Linked DNA regions of Homo sapiens. The protein of the gene in region 3 purifies or fractionates together with the protein of the main gene of each other region. This does not show direct contact. Each region holds a gene or a part of one and is shown on either strand. Other genes may lie near its edges.

Region 1 (10,996 bases), on a different chromosome or scaffold from region 3:
CACTTAGTAATACTGAGAGAGGAGATGGTTTGTTTATAAACAGCAAAAATTTTATCTTGGCCAAGCTAATTCTGAGATGCCTATTAGACCATCACATGAAGATGTAAAGTAGGCAGCTGAATATACAAGTCTGGAGTTCAGAGAAGGGGTCTAAGTTAAAGATAAAAAATCTGGGAGTTGTCAGTATATAAAAATGCATTTAGAGATACTCCTGGATGAGATTATTAAGAGACTGAGTACATATAGACAAAAAAAAAGAAAAAAAAAATCCAAGGGCTAAGGACAAAGTAAATTTAATATTTACAAATGCAAAAGAAATGAAGACAGTAAAGGAAGCTGAAAAGGAATGGACAGTGAGGTGGGAGGAATATCAAGAAGTGGTGTCCTGCAAGCCAAGGTAAGAACGTGCTTCAAGGAAGAAAGGTCAACAGGACCAAATGGTACTGATAGGTCAAATAAGATGAGGACTGAGAACTCACTGGAATTACTGGAGAATCACTGTCCCTTCCAGAACCCAATCCCATACAAGCGTTCCTTGTTCTAGTAGAGTAACACACACTGCTATGTTCAATTTTTACTAATTAAAAATTACTGCCTATTTTTAAATCAAAACTATTACTCCTGAAATGGAAGCAGTAGTATGTTAATCTATTTTAAACATGATGTTTATTTCGGGTTACTATTTGGTATTCTAAGTATTCTGGTAAGTAAGCACCTCTGATGTTTACCACTTTTACTCTGGCTTCATCAAACCCCAAACATTCCACGTATAGGCAGTGAGTTATTCCATAACTTTTTCCAAGATATGATCTTTATTTTACTAGTAAGTTAAAATATAGCAATAGATAAAATATTTTAAAATTACTATCCAATGAGTATTAGAAGACAGACAGAGAGCAGAGTACTCCTTGTACAAAAGCAGAATGTCATAGAGAAATATAAATATACTTTGGCACAAATGCCAAAGTCTCAGTCAGACACACACATACAGGATGCATATTGTGATCCAAATCTTTTTACTCTGAGCCAGTGTAAAGGTTGGGCTTAGGGCAGTCATGCTCTTATCTATTTAAAGATACATTTTTGATACTAGACTCCTGTTGCTGTACCAATTTTGGTATCAGAATACTTCAAGTCCTCTTCAAAGTGAAAAGCATAGTAGCTTCCAAGTAATGTAGTTCATTTCAAGACAACTGATCTACTGCAAAACAAGAGTTGGTAATAAGAGTTCCTGGCCAGGACAATGAAGTAACATTCTCCCAGACAGGTCCATTTGAACTTAAATTATATAAATGAAATAAGGATACACTCTTCACAAAAGCATGGGCACTAATGGTACATGTAACACACTAGTAATCCTAAGTATTTCATCAGAGTAAAGTATATTTGCAGTTAACAGCAATTTCTGATATTATAAATAAAAAAGAATGACAAAAGGCATTACCAAGTGCGTGTTCATATATATGAACTGACTCACCTTCTAAGTCAATATTTTTCTGAGCTCCTTCTTGGATATTTCATTAAGCAGATTATGTTCCTTGACATGAACATTTCAGTCCTCTCTCTCAGATTAGATAGTAAGTTATTCCTAACTTTGCACTATGAGATAAGTGGCAGCTAAAATCAGAAAATTCTTGGTATGGCTTAAAATTGACTGTTTTCAGAGAAATTCAGCTAATTAAGTCAGTTACAGCACACAATTCCTCAGTGACAAAGTTAACAGTTCAAGACTGCTGCTACCTTAATATTTTTACATAGGAACAGCAAGCAAATGGTACTTTTCACCTTTCGCTCAGTTGCTTATCATTGACTGGAAAACACTGTAGTATCCCGCAAATGACTGCTACTTTTCATACAACAAAGGCTGATTTTGTTTAATCCTTTGTCAGTTAAAAAAAAAAAAAAAGGCCAGGTCTTTTGATGTCAGGAAATGCAGAAGCAAGCAAAGTCCACCAAGTAGCTAAATGAATCAATTACATTTATGTTTTTAAAACAGGTCCAAAGCCTAAAATAAGTAACCCCATAGCAAGTTTATTTTAGTATGTTTGTACTCTCCAAGATAACAGACTTTTCCCTTTTTTAACAATAGACATCTAATTAGCATAACATTTTCAAAATTAATTTCCTGTGTTTTGGTGAGAATCTTTAGACTGGGGCATATGGGAGGGGAAGCAGGGAAATAATTATTAAAAAGTACTCGTCTGCAGAAGAAACAGGACTATGTAATTCTTACGCAAATGTTTGTTAACTCCCTCTGGCACAAAAACAGTGATGTCATTCTAGACAGCAGTAGAGCAGAGTTATAATGAACATCAAGTTTTTAAATCACTGACAACTTAAGGAAATTAAGAATATGACTTAAAAATCTCCTCTCCCCAGAGTACTAAATCTGTGCAAGAGGAATGTGTGCCCATCTGGGGTTATATACATATTCAGCGTCAACAAAACTTAAGTCATTTTTCCCTGCACAACAGGAAAAGATGTTGTTGTTTTCCCTTAGAACTCTGGGCAATGAAAGCCATGACTTTAAATGGCTCTGTATAAAAACACAAGAAGGGTGGGTCATGTTCTATTAGTAAAAGCAGCTGAACACCAAGAACTTCTCTTTCTTCAAGTAAAATCTAAAAAGTAATCTCATCTTACTTTTGACAACTATCTTTGCTTCACTTTCTCTAAAATACAGATTAATACCTTTAAAGAGGGTATAAAATGAATTTATAAATTGGCATTTGCAATGTGACTCTCACACCAAAAGTAATCTCACACATTATTTTTTCCCCTGTAGTATGCACTAAATAAAATATCCAAATTTGATTCTGCTGAGAGCAACAATATAAACTATTTTCACTGTAATATCAACAGTATTTATCAACAATATCAATAATATTTACTATACTAAGATTTTTTAAATTTCATTTCCTAATCTCTTAGCAATAAAATATAGTATGACCATTTCTTCAGTTTTAAAATTACCTGAAATTGACTGGAAGACCAACTCTATAGCTACATGAAATTGTAAAAGGGCTGCAAAACTTGAAGCAGTATGAGCATACCCCTTTCTATTAACATTTAACATAACTAAGGGAAGCTGCATATATTTCATCCCACCTTTACTAAATGCCACGATTCAAATTATAGGTCAACATCCAAACTAAGAAATACAATCACAACAAAACCAACATAACATTCTAAACAAAGGGCAGTTCAGCCAAGCTGTCATAAAGAGTTCAGATTTCTACAACCTAAACAGTTGAAAAACTGCTTAACTATTTAGATTTTTTTTAATTGTTACCTATCAGGAATACACCTACTGTTTCACTTTCTACTTATGCCACATTTATCTTAAGTTTTACACTTCTGGATCTTTCAACCGTTAGAGATCAACCATTAAATTACTTCAACAAGTAGAAATAGTAACACCGCTCCCAAACAGCAATTTTTGCATTGCTAGACACTTATCTAGTTGGCAGATTTATACCATTGTTCATTCTTAGTTCCTTAAATGTAAAAAATACCCACAGAATGGTAGCATACCTCTAAATTAGTTTAAATATGGTACAAAGTTATTTTTAGTTAGGTTCAAGTTTTAAAAAGGCACTAATTGTTCTTTTTAAAGGCTAATCTACTCAAGTTCCTCATATTAAAAAAAAAGTTAATTTGTCTCTTTTGGAAAAAAGAAATGTTATTTATGTAATGCTCAAGCAAAAAGGGTGTTCAAATAATAGATCTGACATCAAATCAGGGTTAGGATCATACTTATTGTTCATAAAAGTAAGTTTGACATTTATTCTAATGATGGTCCTTTCAAACACTAGTATGGTTAAATGTCATTTATATGCACTTTCAAATATAATTCTTATTTTAAAAATACTCCTATCCTCTACTATGCAAAGTAGAAAAGGAAGAAAACCCCCACAAGCAATTATAAACATTTTTATCCATGAAAAAATATATACAAGAAATATTCACATAACATTTAAGATTTGTCTATTCCCTCCTTGCATGCTAGAAAGATGCAAAGACAAACACTTCCAAATACTCAGACAGATCATTCCCCAGTTGTAACTTTCATCATAGTTCTCAAAGCAGTATGGTGAGGTCAGCTCACAAACAGCTTAAGTAGCAAAACTAGAAATTGGTGGTAGTAGTATCAGGCTACATAACAGCCTCTCTAAAGAAGATGAAGTAAGAGAACTAAAATGTGCTGGCAACACGCCAAAAGACTGGATGGAATATAGCTTTGAGCAACAAATACTCAGAGCTTACAGTATATAGCAATTCATCATCTCTTATCCTGTAGCTTGACTTTCCTTGTTTTAAACCAAAAATAGCCATGTATAAGAGGTATTTAACACTACAAAATGTGTCCATACTTATGAAATGAAAGATATCTGGGTCTGCAATGATTTGTTTAACTAAATACATACCCTAAAAAAAAAAAATCTGACTTACATTCTGTGTGAAGATGAGGAAGGTAAAATGGATAAAAATACATTGATATTATTATGCATAAAATAGCCTTTATTCTCTAAGGATTATACTACCCTCAAGCATAATCTTTAAGGTTTGGGTTTTCTATATTTTTAGTTCTGAGTGTCTCTTCAACTGGCTGGTATTTAGAATTAGACAACCTTCTCAATATATTTAATGAAGAATTAATCCTGTCAGATCAGAGGACGTGATTTTGGTCAGATATAATTTTTTTGACCTTAGTCAAAATATATGTTACTTTTATAATTTCATCTTACATGGATCATATATTAAAATAGGATAATAAACTCATTCTTAAGTCTCTAACACTTTCTAAAATACTTTTTTTTCTAAGAAACCAAAAGAAAAAAGTTATTTTAGGCCAGAAAAAAGAATCAGATTCAATTCAAATCAATACACATTTAATAGCTATTTTGTGCCAGACATTATACTGAGAATGAGGAAACAAAGATAATATATATACATGGTCTCCCAGAGCTGACAATCTGGCTGGGAAGACCGACCCATTTAAACACACCTACACACTCAATGTGCTTTACTAGCTGTAGGAACAAAAGCCCTACTATCGCCAAGGAAAGAGTGAATGAGTCTGCCCCAGGGGCTGAAAAAATCTTCAGAGGCAAAGTAAGAGTAGAGCTATGTCTTGAAGGATAAGAATTTCACAAGGAAAAGAGGAATATTGCCAGCCAAGGACAATGTTATTCGCCAAAGACTGAGCAAAAGCAAAAAAGCACAAAAACATAACATGTGTGAGGAAACCTATGTGGCAAGGGTAGGATAACAATTTCTAGTACATGTGCTACTACTCTTCTACCCTCACTGTGTAACAGACATCACTAATCAATTAAAGCATGTTTAAAACCCATTTGACATCTCAAAATTCTTCTCAACATATAACACAAACTAGTAGAAGGAGGTAGGTCCATGAGATGAAATATACATGCTATCCTAACCCTGGAAAAAGAAAGTGGTGGGACTTGAGGCAAAGGGTAAATTAAGAACAGATTATGAATAACCATGAATGCAAGGCCAACAAGTTTAGATTTTATCCTGTGGACAACAGAGGATGAACAAAGGACTTTAGGAAGAATATTGATGTGATTAATTCTGAAAGATATGTGAAGAATGGATTTGGACAGACAGAATGAAGGCAGGAAGAAAGAACAGTTAAGATGCTATCATAAAAGTCCAGGCAAGAAGCAATGAGACCTGAATTTCAGCAATGGGAAAATCTACTGCATGTTCTAAAAGAAAAATGAAGTTTTGGATTTTATTATAACCATTTTATTACGGTTTTAAAATGAAAATTTGGGAAAAAGTAATATTCTAGTCAGAATTCCCAAATAACACTCAAAATGGAAAAGAAAAAACAAAGTAAGGTAAAGACTAGAATTAAAGAAGTGAATCACAATGATACCCAAAATTACTCGACTATAAATTCAGAAATAGATATCTCAGGTTTAGCATCAAGAAAGAGAACATCCTCATGACCAGACTAATACTCAGCAAGTCTTTTCTTCCTCTCAGGGCACTAATACGCTAGCCAAACAACAAACGCTATTCACCTTACATGCCCCTACAATACAGGGTCAAACTCATACTCCCGGTGAGATGCAGACAGCACTAAAGTCAAATTTAAAACAGAAGTCTGAAATCATGTAGAAGCTCAACTTTATCCAAACATTTAAAACTCCACACTTCTTTTAAGAAACGTAATTTATATGAAATAAACCTTCTGGAAATAATACCATTCTACTATTTATTAATTCATATCCTAGCCTTTAAACTCCAAAATTCTTGGTATGGAAAACAACTTATCTGTAGCACTTTGGAAAATATGTACAAAAAACAACTCTCCTAACACTTCTGCAGAACGTTTAATAAATGAAACTATTCTAATTAAAAATTAAAACTTCACTGTAGCTCAAAAGCCCAAAGGGAGTAAAACGTTTTTTCTATTTTGAAAAAGGAATTCTTTAGCTATTGCAAACAAAGGCTAGCGCAGTGATGTGAAATCCAAGTACAACATGTTAATAAAGCTGGCATTACTGTTTTAAGACCTAAGGATATTCACATTAAGGATAAAATTATCCTGTAGTGAATGCCAACAATGCATTTCATACTACACAGACACATATTCAAGGGTTCTACTTTGTTCCAATTCTTTTGTGTCCCAGTAACAAACTCTCAAATTGGGATCCTTATCCTCTTAAACTAAAATGAAATATATGAGCTTGGACATAAAATTTACTTGTGCTACATTATTCATTCTGAGAAAGCAAATCAGATGAACAATTTAACATAATCTAATTCTGAACCATAAAGATATGGATTAGTCAGTGATGAGCAGGTCTACTTCTCATGATGTCATTCCAAAGTCATTATTAAATTTTACACATGTTATTCTTTCTTCAAATCAATCACAAAACAAGTCATCCCGAGACTGAGGTCAAATTCCATTCTAACTAAAAGATCTCCAAATCTGAAGTAATGGTCTACTTACTAAGTAATACTCAAAGACCAAATTCCAGAAAAACCCTCCTCCTGTACCTCCCCCCAACTTAAAAAAAAAAAAAATCAGTCTTCTCCTTTTAGCTCACTGTAATGGAATGTGACCTGTACTTAAGGGCTTTTCCATTCCTTTTTTTCTGCTTACAGAATATGAAGCAGACCTATTCTCTCTCACAAGGGCAATATGCTTTTAAAAGAAAAAAAAGTGAAATGTACGAAGTTAATAATGTATTAATTAGAACAAACAAAAGTAAAATAATTTACTAGATTTCTCACATGTGAGTTGTCCTCCTATTAGAACAATGCATGACACTTAGAATGAGTGTATTTTTTACTTTTTTTTTTTTTGAGGCAGAGTTTCACTCTTGTTGCCCAGGCTGGAGTGTAATGGCGCAATCTCGGCTCACTGCAACCTCCACCTCCTGGGTTCGAGCAGTTCTCCTGCCTCAGTCTCGTAACTGGGATTACAGGTGTGCGCCACCATGCCTCGCTAATTTTTGTATTTTTAGTAGAGATGGGGTTTCACCATGTTGGCCAGGCTGGTCTCAAACCCCTAACCTCAGGGGATCCACCCACCTTGGCCTCCTGCAGTGCTGAGATTACAGGCATGAGCCACTATGCCTGGCCAGAATGAGTGTATTTAAATGACAATTGAATTTTTATTTTTATTTTACAACACTGATCAGACATCTGAAAGATTTATGATTTGTATCACTCCTAATAAATTAAGCAGGGAAGAGGAGGTTAAAACTGCACCTACTTAAATAAATCTTCTTCACATACAATATAATATTGCTATAAACATTTTCCATGACAAATCATTTTTATTACTGAACTTACACTTAAGTACCTAATCATAGACAGAACAGGAAAGTAAGCACTTAAGAAATGTACTTTGAGGCCAGGGGCGGTGGCTCACGCCTGTAATCCCAGCACTGTGGGAGGCCAAGGCGGGCGGATCAAGAGGAGAGATTGAGACCATCCTGGCCAACACGGTAAAACCCCATTTCTACTAAAAATACAAAAATTAGCCGGGCATGGTAGCATGCGCCTGTAGTCCCAGCTACTCAGGAGGCTGAGGCAGAATTGTTTGAACCCAAGAGGCGGAGGTTGCAGTGAGCCAGAATCACACCACTGCACTCTAGCCTGGCAACAGAGCGAGACTCTGTCTCAAAAAAAAAAAAAAAATGTACTTTAAAGTCTAAACTTAAACACTTTAATTAATCTACCTGAAGTTCAGCTCCTCATTTTAAAAAAAGAAAGCATTTAATTAGATAATCTTTAAAGTTATTTCTAAGATACTTTAACCTGCCGGGTGTGGTGACTCATATCTGTAATCCAGCACTTTGGGAGGCTGAGGTGGGCGGATCAGGAGGTCAGGAGTTCCAGACCATCCTGGCAAATATGGTAAAACCCCGTCTCTACTAAAAACACAAAAATTAGCAGGGCGTGGTGGCAAGCGCCCGTAATCCCAGTCACTCAGGAGGCTGAAGCAGGGGAATCGCTTGAACCCAGGAGACGGAGATTGCAGTGAGCCAAGATCGGGCCATTGCACTCCAGCCTGGGCGATATAGCGAAAACTCCGTCTCAAAAAGAAAAAGATACTTACTTTAAACCAAAGTTTCTTTTGTTTTGAGACAGAGTCTAGCTCTGCTGCCCAGGCTGGAGTGCAGTGGCATGATTTCGGCTCACTGCAACCTCCACCTCCGGGGTTCAAGCGACTCTCCTGCCTCAGCCTCCCAAGTAGCCAAGACTACAGGCAAGTGCCACCATGCTCAGCTAATCTTTGTATTTGTGGTAGATACAGGGTTCCACCATACTGGCCAACAGGCTGCCCTCAAGTGATCCACTCGCCTCGACCTCCCAAAGTGCCAGGATTACAGGCATGAGCCACCACTCCTGGCCTAACCCAAGTTTTAAGATGAACAAATTCTATTTAACTCGGACAAAAGCACTCCCAAAATAACTCCATTAAGGACACATTTTACTTACATTCTTCCTACACCTTCATACATGTTAGTCTCATCTACCAAAGTCATGATCTCTGTATCTGTAAGATGTGCATGCTTTTTCGTTCTGTTTAGCTGTTCAATCTGTATGTCTGCGAGCTTCACCTTCTGTTGAGTGTCAATAACTTTGGCTTGAAGCTCTGTGAAGGCCTAATAAAAACAAGTCCATGATTTAGTAGGTAAAACATTTTACAGGAAACATTTACCTCAAATCCAAATATATTAAAACAAAATATGCTAGCCAGAGACAAAGCTGTGAAATTTACCAAACATCAATAAAAGTCAACATAACTGTAAACAATCAAGTCACCATACTAAATACTGAATTTACAATCATCAGAAGATACAATCAGTGTGAAGCAAATCAAATGCATATTAAGTAATAACCATATTAAGTAGCAAGTACTCAAGGAGTAGTAAAAGAAATAAATGCAATAGTCAAGGATGAAATCCAGAGATTCAAAACAAGAACCATAAAAGTAATAACTCACTACATTTGTATTGCACAATTAGGTTTCAAAGCACTTTCTCACATTAGTTTGAAATATTAACATGGGAATATTAATATAAGAATATTAATGAGGAAATATAATAAATATCTCATTTATGCCTCTCAGTAATTCCATGAGTTAGCATTGGCAGTCTCATCATCCACAATTTACAAATTAAGTAACCAAATGAGTTAAGAGATAAAAGTGGCTTGCACAAGGTTGAACAACTACTGGGGGGAAGGCAGGTGTTATTTAAATCCATTTCTTCTAACCCCTTAGTTCAGCAATCTTTCCATTCCACTGTCTATAGTAATATTCATAATATGAACATTTTTAAGAGGAAGACCAAGAAAGAGAGTGAGAAAAAATGCAAAGCACTGGCAAAAGAATTGCATCATGATCTTCATCCACAGATACCAGGCCAAATTTGACCCTTGCGTACACTTACTTAACTGGAAGATAAACAGTTCTTGGATACTTTTGTTGAAGTGCCTGGAATGACTTTCACATGCTGTTAAATTTGTGCCTTAATAACATCTGTGACTGCAATGCACAGCAAAGGCTACTACATAATTTTTATTGTGACCTTGTTTTCACCTACTAGTAAGGTTTTGAAAGATTTACTTTGGGGAAGGGGAGGGGCCTGAAATTTCCTATTTGTCTCCACCCAAAAAAAGGACCCTGTAAAAACATTAGAAGATAAAACCTTTAAACAAGTTTTTTAATTAATTGGTTATCAAAATTATTCATTTTAAGTTTGTAATCATTTTCTTAGTTTGCATTCACCGCCCGCAAGTTTCAAATGTAGCAATAAATTCAAAAGTACCGGGAGGCAAATCCATTCACTAAACCCTGATTTAAATCGGTACTTTTAACAGAAGAAAAGGTAAATTTTTAGAATGCACAATTTTGTTTTGAAATGTAAAATTCCAGGTATCATCTGACTGCTCTATACAGCTTGCTAAGGAAGCTAGTATACCATTAAAGATGAGCTAGTATACTGTTAAAGATTAGAGACTCCACCTAAGAGCTAAATTTACAAGATTCAAGACAAGAAGAACAAAAGCAAGACACAAACACATAATATCCTCACAACACTAACAAAAGCTTCATTTGTTAGAAGCAACAGCTATTTCGGCTGTCCTATTTCTTTTACACAAGTTGACCACAGGCAGTCTTAACTAAGATGTTGCTCATCTGAAGAACTCAAAATAGTGGTCAAAAAAGTGTGAGATAAGGCAGAGAATACTGGATTCTAGTCCCAACTTCTGACAGACTTTTCTGGCACTGGTTCCTTTTCCAGAAAAGTAGATTTAAAATAGATAAATTCTAGGGTCCTTTCCAATCCACCCCACCGCACAAAGCATACTGGTTTGGGGTCATTAGTGGTGTTAGAATGCTGATCATTCTTAGATAGCAAAAATCTGAATAACAACACATTTATAAGCAACTGAGGAAAACAGGAAACCCAATTCCTTCCGATACCGGTTTTAT
Region 2 (9,192 bases), on a different chromosome or scaffold from region 3:
GTTGGATTTGGGGCTTGCATGAGGCTTATAGCCCCTTTGTTTTGGCCAATTTCTCCCATTTAGAACAGGTATATTTACCCAATGCCTGTACCTCCATTGTATCTAGGAAGTAACTAACTTGTGTTTGATTTTACAGGCTCATAGGTGGAAGAGACTTGCCTTGTCTCAGATGAAACTGTGGACTTGGACTTTTGGGTTAATGATGAAATAAGACTTTGGGGAACTGTTGGGAAGGCATGATTGTGTTTTGAAATGTGAGATGTGAGATTTGGGAGGGGCCGGGGTGGAATGATATGGTTTGGCTGTGTCCCCACCCAAATCTCATCTTGAATTGTAGTTCCCATAATCCCCACATGTTGTGGGAGAGACCTGGTGGGAGGTAATTGATTTATGGGGACAGTTACCTTCATGCTGTTCTTATGATAGTGAGTGAGCTCTCACGAGATCTGATGGTTTTATAAGAGGCTTTTTTCCCTTTGCTTGGTGCTTTCTCCTTGCTGCCATGTGAGAAAAGACTTGTTTTCTTCCGCTTCTGCCATGATTGCAAGTTTCCTGAGGTCTCCTGAGCCCTGTGGAACTGTGAGTCAATTAAACCTCTTTTCTTTATAAATTACCCAGTCTCAGGTATGTCTTTATTAGCAGCGAGAGAATGGACTAATACAGGTGGTCAAGCAAAGAATCTTTGTCAGTGATTACATGGATGTTTTCTTATAATTAAATTGCAGATATATGTTTAAATTGCAGATATATGTTTTATATTCTTCTGTATGTCTATTTCAAAATTCAAAATAATTTAGAAAAAATTATTTGACTGGAAGATGAATGGAAGAGAGAATATTAGGTAAAGGAATTTGTAGAATATGATATATGGTTCAGTGTTCAGATTTTTAGTTCTTTTTAAATTCTTTTAACTGCATTTCAAAGTGATTTTCATTCATTCATTTACTCATTGTGTTAATGCCATTTTTGTGTTGCTATAAAGAAATACCTGAGGCTGGGTAATTTCTAAAGAAAAGAGATTTATTTTGGTTCATCGTTCTGCAGGCTGTATAGGAAGTGTGGTGCCAGCATCTGCTTCTGGAGAGGGCTTCAGGAAGCTTCCAATCATGGTGGAAGGCAAAGTGGAGCCAGGGTATCAGGTGGCAAGAGAGGGAGCAACACAGAGAGAGGGGGAGGTGCCACACCTTTTAAAACCACCAGATCATGTGAACTCACAGTGAGAACTCACTTGTCACTGCAAGGATGGTGCCAGGCCATTCATGAGGGATCCACCCCTAAGATACAAACATCTCCCACCGGGCCCCACCTCCACCACTCAGAATTACATTTCAACATAAGATTTGGAAGGGACAAACATCAAAACCATATCACCCATTAGATATTTATTCAGTCTTTCTAGTTGCTGGCACTCTATTAGACGTTAGGACTACCCAGAAGAAAGGCCTGGTCTCTGAGGTCATGGCACTTAAAATCTAGTAAGGATAAAATATGTGCTGAAGGATGTGTAAGCCGGTTGAAGAAAAGAGGGCCAAGACATTCCAGGACAAGGGAAAGGCAAGAGCCAGGAAGGTAAGGACACAGGCATTGACAGAACTGGGAGAGGACTCGTTCTTCCAGAGGACAGTATTGATACTAGAAAGTGCTGAGAGATTTGACTAAAGATGCAGGTAGAGGCCATCTAATGACTGGCCTTGTACGAAGTATTAGCTAGAATTAAGTTTGGCTGAATACCCACAATAATATGGGCTTAAAAGGAGACAGGGGTTCATTGCTTTGTCATTTAAAACCAGTCTGGGCAGGTGGTCTGGGCTGCTGTGCATTAAGGACCCAGATTCTCTCTGTTTTTACTGCTCTCTGTTCCAAACACGGCTAATAATTAGCACAACGTAGTCCTTTAAAATAAAGGTGGTTTTATTATAAAATTCTAAAAATGTACTTTAAAGTACAGTCATGAGAATACTGCATAAGTAGAAATGTGTCTTCATACTGCAAACAATCACACAGATTTTATATTGTCCATGGAATTAATACTTAAAAAAATTCTTCTTTTTAGTTAAGAAGAGTCTTCAGAGCACCATTATTCTAATAGAAGTTATTTTGCATATCAGAGTTCATCTTTGGTCTGCAATTAAGAAGCAAAATATTTAGAGCTATCAAGAAGTCTTACACAAGTGAAGAAGACTTACATTCGTTAATTATTTTCCTGTAAAGATGAGAGGGAGCCAAGCTGCTGCTAGAGGCTTTTAGGGCTTGGGACTATTTCCAGAGGCCCAGAGTCAGCTAAGGGTAAAATCACATTGTGTTTCATAGCCTACTGATAAGGAACCCAAACATCCATGGGCTGTACTACTGTAAAGGCCTCATGTTATGAACAGTAGTGGTGAAAGACTAGGATAGACAATGAGCAAAAAATAAACGAAGCTATCATTCTGGCCCCTAACTTCTACTACTCAGTGGAAGAAACTGGCTGGGTACCTCCTCTCAATCACGTAGATGAAGATAAATAACTGAGCAGGAGTGGAGCAAGGAAGCTGCCAGTCTCACTTAGAGCCAAAGTGAGAAGTGTTCTGATACCAAATCACGGATTGGTGAGGGGGAACCTTTCGATTTGGCAATTCTTGTTTTATCATTGGTTTTAACTGATTTTTATGGCCTTGGAGCACTGACAGAGTTCACAATGATGACGAACCACCTCTGAGGGCCAGTTGGTTAGTGGTTAATGAGTTCTATAAAAAACAAAGACAAAAATAAAACAGCCAAAATTCTGATTTGTAGCATGTGCTGATTGTCATGGTGTAAATACTCCTATCAGGATGATTCCAAGCTACCAAAAATTTAACTAGTATGCAAAATTCCTGAATATTTATCAGTGAGCTCATATAAGCTGGTTCTGTCACATCACTGGGGCCAGCCTCACCTTAATTCCTTTTACACCTCCTTGAGAGGTAGACATAATAATTGCCAAATCTGCCTTCTTGTCTTTGGTTATAATACCACAATTTTGAACTTGTCCATTCAGAAACCTAATTATGTTGCCTAAAATGTTAAGTCAGCATATGTTACACACACACACACACACACACACACACACACACACACACTCTAGTTTATGCAATTTACATTCCTTCAAACAAACAAAAATCATAATCAAAGCAACAGTCCCCTGCCACACTATAGCTTTATATACAAGCACACACAATCACAATCTGATGATGAGAGATTGGTTTTTGCTTTGCTATAATCCAGCTAGATGATTTTGAGCACAATTCCTTTTTGGGCTCAGTTTTGTTAACCATAAAATGAAGGCATTTACTGGATGACTTCTAAGGTCCTTTCTACCTTAAAAGTCCAGATGTGAATCTGACTTTCATTTTTATCAATGAGATCCTTATGTAGTGGTATCAACTGAGATGACTTTCAAATGAAGAATTGGAAAACATTAATAATCGTGGTTACATATTTTTCCTTCTCTAAACTGGGATGATGAACTTTGCCAAACTTATCTCATGAGGAGATGAGGGCATCAGATGATACACATGAAAATATTTTTCAGACTGTAAGCATCCATTCAAATAGGGTGTGAGCTGGATTCTCACATTATAAAAGACTTCCCCCCACTTTGCCAGGGAGCTACCATGTCTTCTCAATTAACTGCATTGTAGCATCCTTTCTTGAGCACTGCTATCTTTTATACCTATCTCTCTGGCAGACTGAATTGCTTGGAGACCTCGAGAGGAACTCAAATATTTGCTGCCTGATTGAATGACTATAGGAATAAAAGCAAGTTTGGATCAATGTTAGTTTTTACTCTGACACCGGCCATAAGCTCAGTTCTGGTTACCTTTTTCCTATGGCAAGTACAAGGGAAGAGGTCGTCCTCAGTCTGTGGTTCTACCCTTTTCATGCCCTCTCGGATTTGGGGCTCACTCACTTGTAAATTGGCATATTCCTGTTTAAGCAACAATATAAAAGCATTCCTTATAAAACACTTTATATCCACCCAATGAGAGAGGCTAGAATATATGAAGACTATGATTCATTTAACTCATGTGTGTCAAACTGTGATCTGCATAGTCCGTCATATATACCAGTTCTGAACATCAACAGTAGAGCATCTGAGAGGAGGCCATCCTTTGAACACTGGCTGCCTATTCCTAACAGACACCTCTTTATGCTATCCTAAATTTCCATGACTTTTTTTTTTAACCGTCTTCTGCCTCACAGTAAAAATAATTTTGCACACAATCTTCCCTAGACTGAGAATGTGAAGACAGAGACTATTCTGCTTTCCTTATCATGGCTTGCACAAGCCTCCATCATCATCTTCATTTATCATGTGCTTACTCTGAGTGAAGCACTGTGCTAAGTACCTATGCTAAATGAATGAACACTGCCCCATGGATCCTTAGAAATTCACATGGTAAATCCCCCCAGTTTATTCATTTTACACGGTTTGTCCTCTGCTTCCCTCTATCAAGGGAAGGTTACAAAATCGGGAGGAGCCAGTACAGGCCAGAAATACACCAACTTTGATCTGTAGCAGAGCCTCAGATATGGGGCTCAGTATCTGCAACTGTGAGATAAAACTCTTACTCTAGATCTAGTACTGTTATTAGCCAAGAACTTGTTTACTACCTGATTTTGTTTTTTTTTTTTTGTTTGTTTATTTTTTTGAGACAGAATCTCACTCTTGTCACCCAGGCTGGAGTGCAGGGGTACGATCTCGGCTCACTGTAACTTCCACCTCCCGGGTTCAAGTGATTCTCCTGCCTCAGCCTCCCGAATAGCTGGGATTATAGGTGTGCACCACCACACCCGGCTAATTTTTGTATTTTTAGTAGAGACGGGGTTTCACCATGTTGGCCAGGCTGGTATCAAACTCCTCACCTCAGGTGATCTGTCTGCCTCAGCCTCCCAAAGTGCTGGGATTACAGGTGTGAGCCACCGCACCCGGCCTACTACCACATTTTTAAAAGAGTCCTTTAAATCGTCGGATATGCTTGATTACAATCTCTAAATGCTTAGGTCCATGGAAATAATTTCCAAGGGAAGTCATGGCTCATACAGAGTCAAGACAAGAGGCCCAAACACACCTGGCACTGTTTAGACAAAGAAATGGTAAGGCAGCAGCAATGTAACACAAAGAGAACATACAAATCCATGCACTGTAACTTTGTAGGATCAGAGGCCAATTTCTTAGTCAGACATCACATAGTTCTAATATTAATAGTTTTCGCTTAATATTGTAACATTTTCCATTAGCTAATCTTTGGTTTTCAACTATTTTTTTATGATTACTTAATATTTGTCTCTGATTTTCATCCACAGAAGTATATATATCTCCCTATAGTAACATATGTTTAGAAATTGTTAAGTAAAATATTATTTGTTCTTAACATGTCTACTTATAAGTTACGTGATGATTTTCTTGGAAAATACTGACCTGGAAAAGTTTGAAATAATAACAGAATATGTCATCGCCCATGAGATTATTTCTTGCAAATTCTTGTCCTGCTTTTGCTATCTTTTTGGCCTACAGGAAGAACAACGACAAAATCCTGTAATAGAATCCATTTTTCCCATGCAGGCATCTGCAAACTGCTCTTCAGAGTATGTATACATTGGGGCAACTGTGGGAAATAATATCTTTGGGGGTAGTCTCATGGTAAAACAGAACATTTAACAGAGTATGTTTGTTTAAATCAGAGGGAGGTTTCTAAGACTTAAAAGTTTGAAAAGTCATATTGGACCTTCTAGAACTAAGCCTCTCCTGGAGAGACAAGGTTGTACACCAAGCAAACTGATGACTTTGTAAACGCAAGATGAAGCTTAGCCAGCTGCCTTCACAAATTTCAGGAGACAATTAGCTTAAAGTTTATTGCATTCCATCCCTCTTTATTTCTGTATTTATGGCTGCATCTACTTCTGAATCAATCCCTCATTTTAACCTGGAGCCTGTTAGTGACTTCTGCCAGACTGGCCATCTTACAATTTTCACATTGCTAGCGGAGGCAATGCTTGTGGCTCAGAGCAACGCTACTTGAAAGAGAAAGTGTAATCAAGGCCACAGTTTAGCTTTTTGTTGTTGTTGTTGTTGTTTGTTGTTGTTGTTTGAGACGGAGTTTTGCTCTTGTTGCCCAGGCTGGAGTGCAATGGTGTGGTCTCGGCTCACTGCAACCTCCGCCTCCCAGGTTCAAGTGATTCTCCTGCCTCAGCCTCCCCAGTAGCTGGGATTACAGGCACCCATCACCACGCCAGCTTATTTTTGTATTTTTAGTAGAGATGGGGTTTGACCATGTTAGCCAGGCTGGTCTTGAACTCCTGACCTCAGGTGATCTGCCTGCCTCAGCCTTCCAAAGTGCTGGGATTACAGGCACGAGCCACCGCACCCAGCCTAGCTTTTTGTTTCACATGCAGAGTGGAGAGTTAATGTAAGATGCAGTGCCCGCTGTGTTCAGCCTAGGGGAACTGCCGTGCCATCTATGGGCAGGCAGCTTCCCATTTACAGGCCAAAGTCTATTACGTGAACATCCTGGATGCTCTCCAGGTACAATACATTTCAAAAGGACCCATGATATTGGGAAACAAGTGGAAATAAGCCTTCAAGGGGACTAACCTTACCTCTTCATCGTGATCTTTCGCCCATTTAAGTTTTTCTAGCAGATCGCTCAGGTTGCTCTTAACTGGAATGTAGTGTTTCCAGGGCTGCAGCTCATTGTAAAAATGTTCATAGTAGATGGAATCCTGCTTCAGCACAACACTGTCACCAACTAGCAAATATGGCAGGCGATAAGCTGCTACAGTGCCATCGATATTTATTTGATACTTATGCTGCAAAACAATGGTAAAGTCTAAGAACCTCTATTAAATCTCCTTTTCTCCACTCTATTCTCCTTCCCATCCCACACATAAACCTTTGCAATCCTCAGACACAATTTGGTCAGCTTCCACGCTCTGCCTTTGCCGTTTAGTAAGTGTTATTAAACAACAGGTTGATCTAGAGCTAAATGCTCATTTTGATGTGCTTCTCAATTTTACAAAGGATACAAATCTAGTGTTGAAGCAGCGAATACAATCATACTGCTGTCCTAAGGCTGCAACATAAGGAAGGATGGATTCATTTGTGACTTTTTGTAATTCTCCTGCTACTTTATTGATTGCAAATGTGCCCCTAATGATGGCATATTCTGAGCCATGTTAACCGTATTATTTATGTATTTATTTTGAGACAGAGTCTTGCTCTGTCACTCAGGCTGGAGTGTAGTGGCGTGATCTCAGCTCACTGCAACTTCCACCTCCTGGGATCAAGTGATTCTTGTGCCTCAGCATCCCCAGTCGCTGGCATTAGAGGCACGCACCACCACGCCCAGCTAATTTTTGTATTTTTAGTAGAGATGCGGTTTCACCATGTTGGCCAGGCTGGTCTCGAACCCTGGAACTCAGGTGATCTGCCTGCCTCAGCCTCCCAAAGTGCTAGGATTACAGGCGTGAGCCATCACGCCTGGCTAACCGTATTTTTTAAACACCCAGACATATGTCTTAAAGAAATTAGCAAGCTCTGGAGCAAGAACACCTATGAATAAAAATATTCATAGAACTGTGGTAATCTATCATCTTTAGTTGCAGAAAATTCAACAGGCAGGAATAAAGCCAAGGCAGGATGGAGCACCCCTCCACTGAGGAAGGTTGGCTAGTATCCTTTCACTTTGGTTATAATCATTTCTTTCAAAAATCTTTGGGATATGCATATAGAAAAATACTGACAATTCAACTTTAACATTGAACAAGGTTAACATTTAGGTCAACCTGCCTCAACAAAACCCATCAAAAGAAAATTTGGTCATCTACAGGGCAGACAGAACTCGTTAATCACTTGTCTTCCCACATACAGAGGACAGATGATGACCTTTTTCCCACCTCTCTCTCTACCATGGGGGACTTCAGAAACAACTCCATGGTCTAAAGAGCAGGGTGGTGCCCACTGCCTTATAAAAGGAGTTGTTAGAAAAAGGACTACTCCCCAGGAACCATGCGGAATCCACATTCTAGACAGAGAAAGCAAACCCTAATTCCCAGACAGAACATTTGGATGAGTTTCACGTCATTCCCCACCAGAAGGCCTGGTAAGAAACAAGTAGTTTATATCTTCCTTATTCTGTTGTGATAACATGGCTCTGGGAAAAAGTATTTGTAAAATGACTTACATGTAAGTATTAATAAAAACATATTTGGAGGTGACATGTGCTTATCTCAAGGGTTAGCTGGAAAAAAATTATAGCTCTATCCAGGCTCCAAACTCCCTTGATGCGCATTTAATATCAAGACTGGGCAGTGAGGGCAGACCCTGGTTGCCAAAACAGTCCCCAGCACCCCCATGTCTCAATATTCGCTCAATTTTGTGCTAACTTCTCCCACCTCTTGAAATTTGCAGGCCTTAATTTCCCTTCCCAAAGCACTATGTACAAATACATTAGAAAAACAAAAAAGATTAGCTACTGATTAAGTCATACCTTGAAGAAATCAAAAAATGAAATATGTTTCACAATGGGACCATACAGGTTTTCATCGTGTTTAAAGAAGAAAAAGTTGGTGAAAGCAGCGTCTATGAGTTCTGGGTGTTTTCTACTGAGTTTAACCAGCTCGAGTCTCTCTTTGCGGCTGTCTCGCCCTCTCCAGACGGCAGTGGAATTTTTGCTTTCCCAGGGAGGACCCGTGTTAGCTTGCACGGACATCATATCCAGACTTACCCTAGAAGACAAAGTGCAACAGATTTTCCTCCCAAATCATCATATCACAAAGGTTGTTGCAAAAGAACTCACCAAAGAAAGAAAACCAAGGCTCTGGGCCAACCCTGACTTATCTCTCACCGGCCCATGGTTTCCAGAACAGAATCAGTCAAATCGTACGTAGGCATCACGATATCCTTGGAATCTGTGGAGCCACACCAGGAAAAGATCGGATGGATGTTTGAATTGGATTTCTTTTTTTCCAAAGGCCAGTCTCCCAAATTAACAAAGAGCTCCACATCTGGCATCTTCACCTAGAAAAAACAAAACGAGGAGCTTATTCACATTTCCTGCATTGGATAATACATTGTATTTATCAATTTAAATTTGAAATTGCATTAATGAAAGGCCAATGTTACATGTTTCAGGTAATAATAATTACCTTGGTTTGAATAGTGGGCAATGT
Region 3 (10,996 bases):
TCAAAAACAAACAAAAATTCTGGCTTGTATGCTGTCTTCATAAATAGTAATGAAAATATCTGGCTTGTATGCCCCCTCTGACATTTACACAGTGCTTTCCAGCATCTGCTGCATGTATAAGATCCCAAGGTGGAGTTTATTCTCCCTCATTTGATGATTGGAAAAACTATCCCCATATTTTCCTGTGGTTTGACTCCATAGCCACAGCAACCCTTTTTCCGACCAGCCAAGAAACAGCAGCGGTGGCAGGATGCTGGTCCCAACCACCCCGGGGCTCAGGACAGAGGGTTCTCCAAGCATCTGAACCTGCCAGTGCCCAAAGCATAACTTGGTCCTCACCTGGATGTTCCAGACGAGACATGGGTGTCTGGCTATTAGGGCTTGTTTTACAGTTGAATAATTATTTTGAATGGCCCCTAAAATATTTTCTATGAATATCCATAACTTGGTCTGTGCAGAGTCATAAACCTTCCAGACCATCAGTTGCTACCAATTCTTCGAATTTGCACAGAACTCTTTATTGCACAAAGAAGCAAGCCATGCAAATAGCTGGGGTCAAGGGATCATCCCAGGCAAAGAGAAGAGCGAGTGCAAAGGCCTTGAGGTGGCTTCTGCAGGAAACAACTAAAAGGCAGATCGAGGGAGGGGAAGGAAGATAAGAAATGAGTTTGAGGGAAGGCACAGTATGGACTAGGGATTGTATTCTAAAGGTGATGGAGGATTTTGAATGAATAAATGCCACCCCTGCTCTTTTTTTTTTTTTTTTTGATGGAGTCTTGCTCTGTCACCCAGGCTGGAGTGCAGTGGCACGATCTCGGCTCACTGCAACCTCCGCCTCCTGGGTTCAAGTGATTCTCCTTCCTCAGCCTCCTGAGTAGCTGGGACTACAGGCACCTGCTACCACGCCCAGCTAATTTTTTTTTTTTTTGTATTTTTAGTAGAGATGGAGTTTCACCATGTTGGCCAGGCTGGTCTCGAACACCTGACCTCAGACGATCTGCCCACCTCATCCTCCCAAAGTGCTGGAATTATAGGCATGAGCTACCGTGTCCGGCCCACTCCTCCTCACTTTAACCCCTCCCGTGGCTTCTGGTTGCTTCTATTCTATTCTATTCTATTCTATTCTATTCTATTCTATTCTATTCTATTCTATTCTATTCTATTCTATTCTTTTGAGACAGTCTTCCTCTGTTGCCCAGGCTGGAGTGCAGTGGTATGATCTCGGCTCACAGCAACCTCTGCCTCCTGGGTTCAAGCGATTTTCCTGGCTCAGCCTCCCGAGTAGCTGGAATTACAGGCACGCACCATCATGTGGAGGGAATTTTTGTACTTTTAGTAGAGATGAGGTTTTACCATGTTGACCAGGCTGGTCATGAACTCCTGACCTCAGATGATCTGCCCGCCTCGGCCTCCCAAGGTGCTGGGATTACAGGCATGAGCCACCACACCTGGCCTTCTGGTTGCATTTAGAATCTGAGGGAGGCTCTACAGGGTCCGGTCCCATCCATCTCACCATGCATCTCTGTGGCCTTGCTCCTCCTCACTTGTTGTAGAGACGAGGTGTCACTGTGTGGCCCAGGCTGGTCTCAAACTCCTAAGCTTAAGCCATCCTCCTGCTCAGCCTCCCAAAACACTGGGATTATAGGCATGAGCCACTGTGCCCAGCCTGGGCCTTAGCCATGCGGGTCCCACTTGCTCCTTGAGCACATCTAGCTTTTTCCATCTCAGGCAGTTTCCACGTCGGCTTCTCCTGCCTGGATGTATCCCCCACCCCCATACCTCCAGCTCCTCTCACGTCTCCCTCCTCCATCTGTTCCTCCAGGTGTCAGCTTACCTGTCATTTCTCAGAGCACCCTCCCCTCACCTCTCAATCAAAAGTGACCTTGTCCTAGTTGTTCCTGAGACTCGTCCACAGCAATGATCACAGCGAAGAGTTGTATTTGTTTCTGGTTTCTTCGCTTCATATCTGTCTCCTTGGTTGACTCTCAGCCCCACGAAGGCAGGGCCTATGCCTGCTTTACCCACTGCTGCATACTCATCGTGTAGCCCTGGCCCCACATCTTTTAAATGCTCAATAAATACTCATTCCTGAGTGGATGCATAAAGCATGCATCAGGAAAGGGCCCATACTGGGCACAGTGGCTCTTGCCTGTAATCCCAGTGCTTAGGAGGCTACGCAGGAGGATGGCTTGGGCTCAGGAGTTTGAGACCAGCCTGGGCAACATAGCAAGACCTCGTCTCTACAAACAATAATAATAGTTTAAAAATTAGCTGGGTGTGGTGATGCGTGCCTGTAGTCCCAGCCACTTGGGAGGCTGAGGTGGGAGGATCACTTGATGGGAGATGGAGGCTGTAGTGAGCCATGATGGCGCCACTGCACTGCAGCCTGGGTGACAGAGCAAGACCCTGTCTCAAAAAAAAAAAGAAAAGAAAAAAGAAAAAAACAAAAAGAGAAAAAGAGCTCAGCCTTGTAGAGGAGAGAGGCTGGAGGCTGCATATCAGTGAGGCAACAGGACAACAGTTGAATAGTTGAGAAGAGAAATGAAAAAGGCCTTCCTTTAGTCTTTAACAGCAGAGGCAGGAAAAGCGGATAGATTCAGGAGCTCCAGAAAGTAGAACCAACTGACTGATAGAACACAGCAAGAGACAGGGACAGCAGATCTACACTGGGGGCTACAACTCAGGTGGTTGAGAAGAACATAGTGCAATTAAATGAAGTAACATGGGGGAAGGATAGCATATTTTGGGCTGTATCTCAACAGCCAAAGCTTGGAATTTGAGATGCTTGAAGGACATCTAGGTGGACATGTCTGGGAGGCAGTTGAAAATACAGTTCTGGCTCTCAGAAGTGAAACAATACTATATGAACAATACTATTTTGGATGATATTTATGAGTTCTTAGCACATGTCCGGTCCCATGTTAAGCCTAGAGGCAGCATCGTACATTGGTTAAGAGCTCAATTACTCTGAACTGAGTCAGATTGTTGGAGTTCACTTGCAAGTTCTCCAACTTGCATGATCTGTAACCCTCAGCAAGGTGCTTAAGCTTACTGTGCCCCATCTGTGCATATCTGGGGTAGTAATGGTACCTACCACGTTGGGCTACTTCCTATCAGGATTACAGTGAATTTAGAATAGTGTGTAGCACTCAATGAGTTTTATCTGTTTTTTGTTTTGTTTTGTGTTTTGAGACAGAGCCTTGCTGTGTCGCCCAGGCTGGAGTGCAGTGGTGCGATCATAGTGCACTGCAGCCTCGACCTCCTGGGCTCCAGTGATCCTCCCACCTCAGCTTCCTGAGTAGCTGGGACTACAGGCATGCACCACCATGCAAGGCTATTTTTTTTATTTTTGTAGAGATGAGGTCTCACTATGTTGTCCAGGCTGATCTCAAACTCCTGGCCTCAAGCAATCCTCCCATCTTGGCCTCCCAAATCTGTCATATTTTTATGATTGTCGTTAATCATCATAACAAGGCTGAGTGGTAGATAGGATTAGCATCCTCATGTTTTGACACGACGAAACTGAGGCTTAGAAAATTTAAGGTTGGGCCCAGTGGCTCACGCCTGTAACACTAGCACTTTAAGAGGCCGAGGCGGGTGGATCATTTGAGGTCAGGAGTTCAAGACCAGCCTGGCCAACGTGGTGAAACCCTGTCTCTACTAAAAATACAGAAATTAGCCAGGCGTGGTGGCACGTGCCTGTAATCCCAGCTACTTGGGAGGCTGAGGCAGGAGAATCGCTTGAGCCTGGCAGATGGAGGTTGCCGTGAGCTGAGGTGGTGCCACTGCACTCCAGTCTGGGCGTCTGGGCGACAGAGTGAGACCCTGTCTCAAAAAAAAAAAAAAAAAAAAAAAAAAGAAAAGAAAAAGAAAATTTAAGTAATTTCCCTGAAGTCACCCAGCTGGTAAACGGTGGAGCTGGGATTTGAATCTGACTCATTCATCCTGCATTGTCAGGTCTAAGTCCTGACTGAGCCACTAGCCAAAGAGAATGAGAGTCCTTCACAAGTAGTGAATGAGACATCACTCAGAAAAAGCCTGTTTGAGGCATGGTGCTGGGGTTAAGAGTAAAAGGCTTCAAGGAAGAACGACAAGAAAAAGGGAGAAAGACACTTTGATGTGTAGCGGGAGAGCCAAGCACTGTTGGGAGAGGAAAAAAGTTTGGGGCGTGTTGTGTGGCTCAGATACTCAGTGGTGCCACCTACCTGTGGGAGGACTTAAATCAGTAACTTTGGGATTTTGATTCCTGGCGGTATCTGGGTTTCTTGCTAAAAGTTGGTTCCATCTGATGCCTTCCCGAGCTATCCTGACCTTGGCTTTAATAATTCATAAATGCCACTAACGATCTACAAGTGAAAAGCATTTTCACATCAAGGTCTAATTGGACCCTCGTGGCCACCCGGAGACACAGGAACGACTAAATACATTCTGCAGATGAGGAAACAAAGGCTCATAGAGGGGAAGGGGTTTACGTTGCCTAAGAACTCTGACACTAGTATAGACAGGCCCGCACTGACTCTGAGATACATCACGTACCAGCTGTGGTCCTTTGGTAAGTTACTTAACCTCCCAAGCCTCAGTTTCCCTTTTCTGTGAAGTGGAGATGATCATGCCTGCCCTTAGATTTTCAGGAGCAAATTGGATTGTGGATACAAAGCTTAGGACATCCGGTATACAGTAAGCAGTCAATAATTGGGAGCCAGCCGTAGAAGTGGTGATAGTAGCTGAGACTCAAGTCAAATCCAGACCACCAATTCCAAACTGTGGGTTCTTGTTGCTGCTGAGAATGGCATGGTCATCTGTCATCAAGGAAACGGCACGAAGGAAAATAGAGCTAGTAATAACTATGGTTAATGAGGACGGTAAATGCTAATCACTGAAGGACTTTCGTCTCCAGCTAAGGAGATGAGTGTGATTCATGGGGAGGATTTAAGGCTATTGTTAAGGTTCCAACAATGAGAAGGGCCCTTGCAGCCATTAATATGGGTTAGAACCCAGACCCTGCCCTTTCCTCCCTGGGTGACCAATCCAGGTCTGAGTGTTAGTTTCTGCATCTATAAAATGGGGGTTAAAACATGTATTACTTGATTTATGAAAGCCAAGTGACATAAAGTGTGTTGAACATCGAGCCTGGAGTACAGTAAGTGTTCAACAAGTGTTTCATTTTTTTCTTTCCATCACACTTTCCTAAGGACAGTACATGACAGTAGAGTTATGCATCAGGAATACAGTCTGAGAAGTGCATTGTTAGGCAATGTCGTCCTTGTGTGAGCATCATAGAGTGTACTCACACGAACCTAGATGGTAGTGCCTGCTACACACCTGGGCTATATGATACAGCCTGTGCTTCCAGGCTACAAACCTGTACATACACACATGTAGAAACACACACACATATCACACACACATATGTAGAAACATATGTGTGTGTGTGGTATATGTGTGTGTATGTGTGTATTTAGAGATAGGGTCTCACTCTGTTACTGAGGCTATAGTACAGTGGCACAATCATAGCTCACTGCAGCCTTGACCTCCTGGGCTCAAGTGATCCTCTTGCCTCAGCCTCCTGAATAGCTGGGACCACAGGCATACACCACCATGCCTGGCTAATTTAAATGAAAATTTTGTAGAGGTGGGGTCTCACTATGTTGTCCAGGCTGGTCTTGAACTTCTGGCTTTAAGCGATCCTTTGTCTTGGTCTCCCAAAATGCTGGGATTACAGGTGTGAGCTACCATGCCTGGTCTATTTTTTAAATTACTGTGGATGGAAAGAAAAATGGCATGTATGACGTCAAATCTAGGAGGTAATGGGAAGAGGAAGGGGACGTGTGGGATGAAAATTTTTGTCTTCTTTTCCACAGAGAAGAGGGCAGCCAAGATGACCCGATGGTCCAGTTACCTGTTGGGATGGACAACCTTCCTTCTCTATTCCTATGAGTCAAGTGGAGGTAAGGACACTCAAAGCAACAGGGAGGATTTAGAAGCTGGAGAAGAATGAATGGGGCAAAGCAAAGATTCCTGGAACTAAGTAGGCAGGAGATGGCTTAGCAAAAATCTCAGAAGAAGCTGGGCGCGGTGGCTGACACCTGTAATCCCAGCACTTTGCAGGGCTGAGGCAGGCAGATCACTTGAGGTCAGGAGTTCCAGAGCAGCCTGCCCAACATGGTGAAACCCCATCTCTACTAAAAATACAAAAATTAGCCAGGCATGGTGGTGAGCGCCTGTAATCCCAGCTACTTGGGAGGCTGAGGCAGGAGAATCGCTTGAACCCAGGAGGTGGAGGTTGCAGTGAGCCGAGATCGTACCACTGAACTCCAGACTGGGAGACAAGAGCAAAACTCCCTCTCAAAAAAAAAAAAAAAAAATCTCAGAAGACCTGGGGTTTGGACCCTGGATCTGCCACTTCTTTTCTTGGTAACTTTGGTCAAGCAACATAAGCTCTCTGAAGTCAATTTCCAGACTGTAAAAGAGAAGTAACGGCATTTATCTCACGGGGTTATTTTGAAGATCAAATAAAATAATGGGCACCAGCATCTTTCATAATGCTCAGCACATGGTGGGGGTAAAAGGCAGGCTATATAATTCCAGTGAACAGAACCTTCAGACCCCAACCTGGACAACCTAATTATATCTTAATATATCTCAGAATCTAAATTAACCACTAAAAGACTGTAAGGTAAGCATGGAAACAGAACAAGAGGAAACCTTGCTTACATGTCATTCACTCAAGCCTTGGTGAGTCATTCTTCACAATTAGAATCCTTTTCTGCCTGATAAATCGTTCTCCTCTGGATAAGGCTCAGGAACCATTTGCATATTGATGCACCTTGATCCCACATTCTTTATTCCAGAGATTCCTAACCTGGGGTCATTGAGTGAGGATTAGAGTCCATGAAAACTGGAATTTACGTTTTAAAAAAAGTGTGTATTTATGAGGGTAGTGAGAATAGCTATTGTAACAAACAAAATCCAAACTATCAGCTGCTTGACACAATAACATTTTTTTTTTCTTGGTTCTGCAAAATCCCAGAAGGGTGCATCTGGTCAGGAAACAATGCTCCACATGGTCATTCAGGGATCCAAGCTTCTTACATCCTGGAGCCCCAACATCCCCTACGGTTTCAGAGTCTGCTGAGGTTTCTTTGCTTTTAGCTTGTAGACAAGTATCAAGAGAGTCTGGAGGACCTTGGAGGAGAGGGTTTTTTGTTTGTTTGTTTTCTTTTGGCCAGGACAGGAAGTGACATTCATCCCTTTCTCCTGCTTCCACTGGCCAAAACTGATATGGCTCTTAACTGCAAGCAAGTCTGGGAGATGCAGTGTAGCAGTGCATTTGGGAGGAAAGTGAAACTGATTTCGGTGAACACACAGCCATCTCAACCATAAGGGCATATGAATATTCTCCTAGAGAGAAGTTCTGGGTTCTCAAAGAACTGACAAATTCCTGAAAGTTTAGGAACTCACAGTTTATTCAGACAAGGAACAATGTACTTGATGGGGTATCCACTTTTCTAGTTATAATCTCATTTTTGTCATGCCTCCCTGAGACCACACCCACATACTTGTGGTGAAACTCAGTATTCCAAGTTCCCTTTGCGTGTATTTACAGATAAATTATTCAGTATACACTTACTGAGTGATCTTTAAGTTCCAGACATTGTGTTATGGACCAGAAGTGCAGAAATAAACAAAACCTAAACCCTCCACTCAGAGAGTTCACAGTAATCGGGAGTTATAGACACATAAATGAATTATTTTTAAAAAATTGGCAACTGCATTCATTTATAGAGATTGACTCTGAGTATTATAAGTGTGAGGAAGAGTATTGACCCAGACTGAGCCAAGTCTTCATGGATGAATAGCAGGGACTAAAGCTGGGAAGAGAGGAAAGGCATTCAGGACAGGGTGAAGGGCAGGACCAAAATCTCAAAGACGAGAAAGAACATGGAATAAGGTCAAGGGAATGTTAATCAGGGAGTGAGAACAGGCAGGTCAGCAGGGTCTGGATTATAGAGGATTGTAACTCAGTTAAGAAGATTAGGCCATCTGCTGGATTACTTTGCAGATGGCTAATAGTATTCATTATGTGCTGATTCTTACTAACGACTCCCAAAGATAACCTTAATTCCACCTACAGGGGCATCTGCCCTCTCCCTCAACACAGTATCCTATATACTCAGTGGTGTTCGTGACTGAGGCAAAGCATTGATAATGACAATAATGACAGTGAAGATGACAATGATAATGATGAGGATGATGATGATATGACGATGATGACAATGATGACGGTAATGATGACAACAATAATAGCGACAATGACAATGATGATGGTGACAGTGATGATGATGACGATGATGATAATGATTATGACAATGATGTGATGAGGAGGAAAATAATGATTACAATAATGATGACAATGATGATGAGAATGACAATAATGGGGTTGATGATGATGATGACAATGATTGATAATGATGATGACAATGACGATGATGATCACCATGATAATGACAATAATGAGGTTGATAATGATGGTGACAATGACTGATGATGATGACAATTATGACGATGATGATGATGATGGTGACAATGATGATGACGATGATAATGATGATGTCAATAATGATGTGATGAGGAGGAGAATAATGATCACGATGACAGTGATGATGATGACAATGACAATAATGAGGTTGATGATAATGACAATGACTGATAATGATGATGACAATGATGATGACAATGACTGATAATGATGACAATGATGATGATGACAATGATGATCATCATCACATGATAATGACAATAATGAGGTGGATTATGATGACAATGATGATGACAACGATGATGATGATCATCATCCTGATGACAATGACAATAATGAGACTGATGATGGTGACAATGACTGATGATGATGATCATGACAATGATGATGAGCATTATGATGATGCCAATGACAATAGCGTGGAGAATGATGATGATGACAGTGATGGTAATGATGATGATGATGACAATGATAATCATAGCTAATATTTATTAAGCAGCAGCCATGCTCCAGGTACTCTTCTAAGCACTTTCCAGATTTAAACTGGTTTAAGTTTCACAAAAATAAATACCAAACAGTTCTGAGAAACAAGGTGAAAAATGCAATGAACTAACAGTTGAGCAAGTTGAGCTCTCATCCCAGGTCTACAAAAAAAAAGCAATCAACTTTAATTAGTCCTTATTGTACGTGGGTTTTCATGTAATGAGGAATTTGGGATAGAATAGCATTTCTTTCTTTTTTCAAAAAAATTTACACATCAAAATTCTGCAGAACACCGTTTTTGTTTTTTGTTTTGTTCTGTTTTGTTTTGTTTTCAGACAGGGTCTCACTCTGTCACCCAGGCTGGAGTACAGTGGTGCAATCATGGCTCACTGTGGCCTCAACTACTCAGGCTCAAAGGGTCTTCCCCTCAGCCTCCCAAGTAGCTGGGATTACAGGGGCACACCACCATGCCCGGCTAATCTTGTTTGTTTGTTTTTTTGTAGAGATGGGGGTCTCACTTTGTTGCTCAGGCGGGTCTTGAAGCGATCCGCCCACCTCAGCCTCCCAAAGTGCTGGGATTACAGGCATGGAGCATTGTGCCTGGCCGAGAACAGCATTTTTTGATATATTTCAGGGACCATTAGTCTCTAGTGCCATTGAATTTTGAAAAAAAAGAAGGACAACTCGATATACTGTATTCATCAATTCTCATTTTCATATTAACTTTTCTGTTGAGTCCTTCATTAAAGAAACCTGTTTAACTTTATTTCACGTGGCATTTTTCCAAACTTATTTTATTGTTTCTGTTGTTTCTTGAGCAAATAATTATTCTAGGTTCTGTAGATACACTGCACAAAAAACAAAGTTCCTGTACTCATTGAGAAGAATAAGGACGTCGAAAGTTGTCCCCTCAATATTTGCCACATCTGGGTACCACCAGTACTATTATTTACTCAACATTTTTCTTTAAATTTGCTTACTTTTCTTCACTTTAAAAAATTCATTTTGGGAGATTGGTTAACATCAGTATTATAATATAAAAAAGCACTACCACTTTCCATAAATAGGAAGTACGACCAAAAAGAAATACTGTACTATGAAAACAAAATCCCATTATTAAATTCTGCTAGACTATCGTCCGAATAAAGCTTTGAGTTTGAGTCCTGCTCCCCACCCCCCTCTCTTTTTTGTTAAAATGGGAGATTATTAAGTATTAGAGATGCAGTAGAGAAATACTACTATTAAATTGAAGCTTTCTCTTTTGCGTAAGCAGAAGGACTAAAAGGACCACTGGAAAATGATTTTTTTCTAGTCTATATTTCAAAATTATTTAATGTGTGTCCTTACATAACCTAATGTGATCTTGTGATCCACCAAAAAGTATTTTGTGTAATGTCATTGGCCCCCCATTTTATGCTCTGAGAAACAGTGGTCTCAAGGAACAACACACCACGGTTGTCTTGGTTGTGTATGAAACTCTTCCCCAGTGCTCCTGGCCCCAACATGAACTGGATATGCTCTGACATGTCATTAGGAAATTGGATGCTAAGCCTAGGTGTGTAGCCTTCAGGCCACCATGAGAACTGTCTCAGTCCATTTGGGTTGCCATAACAAAATACCACAGGCCAGGCATGGTGGCTTACGCCTGTAATCCCAGCACTGTGGGAGGCCAAGGTGGGAGGATCACCTGAGGTTAGGAGTTTGAGACCAGCCTGGCCAACATGGCAAAACCCCGTCTCTACTAAAAATACAAAAATTTGCTAGGTGTGGTGGCGGGCACCTGTAATCCCAGCTACTTTAGAGGCTGAGGCAGGAGAATCTCTTGAACCCAGGAGGTGGAGGTTGCAGTGAGCTGAGACCAGACTACTGCACTCCAGCCTGGGTGACAGAGTAAGACTTCATCTCAAAAAAAAAAAAAGTAAATAAAATAAAATTTAAAAAGTACCATTGACTGCGTAGCTTATAAACAATATA

What was found.
Region 1: the proteins of ELSPBP1 (region 3) and PFDN1 purify together in Homo sapiens (co-immunoprecipitation; 2 studies listed by BioGRID and IntAct, with this or other methods). This does not show direct contact.
Region 2: the proteins of ELSPBP1 (region 3) and POGLUT2 purify together in Homo sapiens (co-immunoprecipitation; 2 studies listed by BioGRID and IntAct, with this or other methods). This does not show direct contact.

What each region holds. Positions count from the first base shown.
Region 1 is NC_000005.10:140,291,422-140,302,417, forward strand, and holds part of PFDN1 (prefoldin subunit 1), read right to left. Parts: intron 9,162-10,996; coding exon 8,995-9,161; intron 1-8,994. UniProt on the Homo sapiens protein: Binds specifically to cytosolic chaperonin (c-CPN) and transfers target proteins to it. Binds to nascent polypeptide chain and promotes folding in an environment in which there are many competing pathways for nonnative proteins.
Region 2 is NC_000013.11:102,782,391-102,791,582, forward strand, and holds the end of POGLUT2 (protein O-glucosyltransferase 2 isoform 1 precursor), read right to left. Parts: intron 9,041-9,192; coding exon 8,868-9,040; intron 8,749-8,867; coding exon 8,511-8,748; intron 6,832-8,510; coding exon 6,622-6,831; intron 5,534-6,621; coding exon 5,444-5,533; intron 3,950-5,443; coding exon 3,842-3,949; intron 2,123-3,841; coding exon 2,105-2,122; 3' UTR 1,891-2,104; downstream 1-1,890. UniProt on the Homo sapiens protein: Protein glucosyltransferase that catalyzes the transfer of glucose from UDP-glucose to a serine residue within the consensus sequence peptide C-X-N-T-X-G-S-F-X-C. Can also catalyze the transfer of xylose from UDP-xylose but less efficiently.
Region 3 is NC_000019.10:48,002,790-48,013,785, forward strand, and holds part of ELSPBP1 (epididymal sperm-binding protein 1 precursor), read left to right. Parts: intron 1-4,292; exon of another isoform or gene 4,293-4,434; coding exon of another isoform or gene 4,435-4,552; intron 4,553-5,861; coding exon of another isoform or gene 5,862-5,878; coding exon 5,879-5,948; intron 5,949-10,996.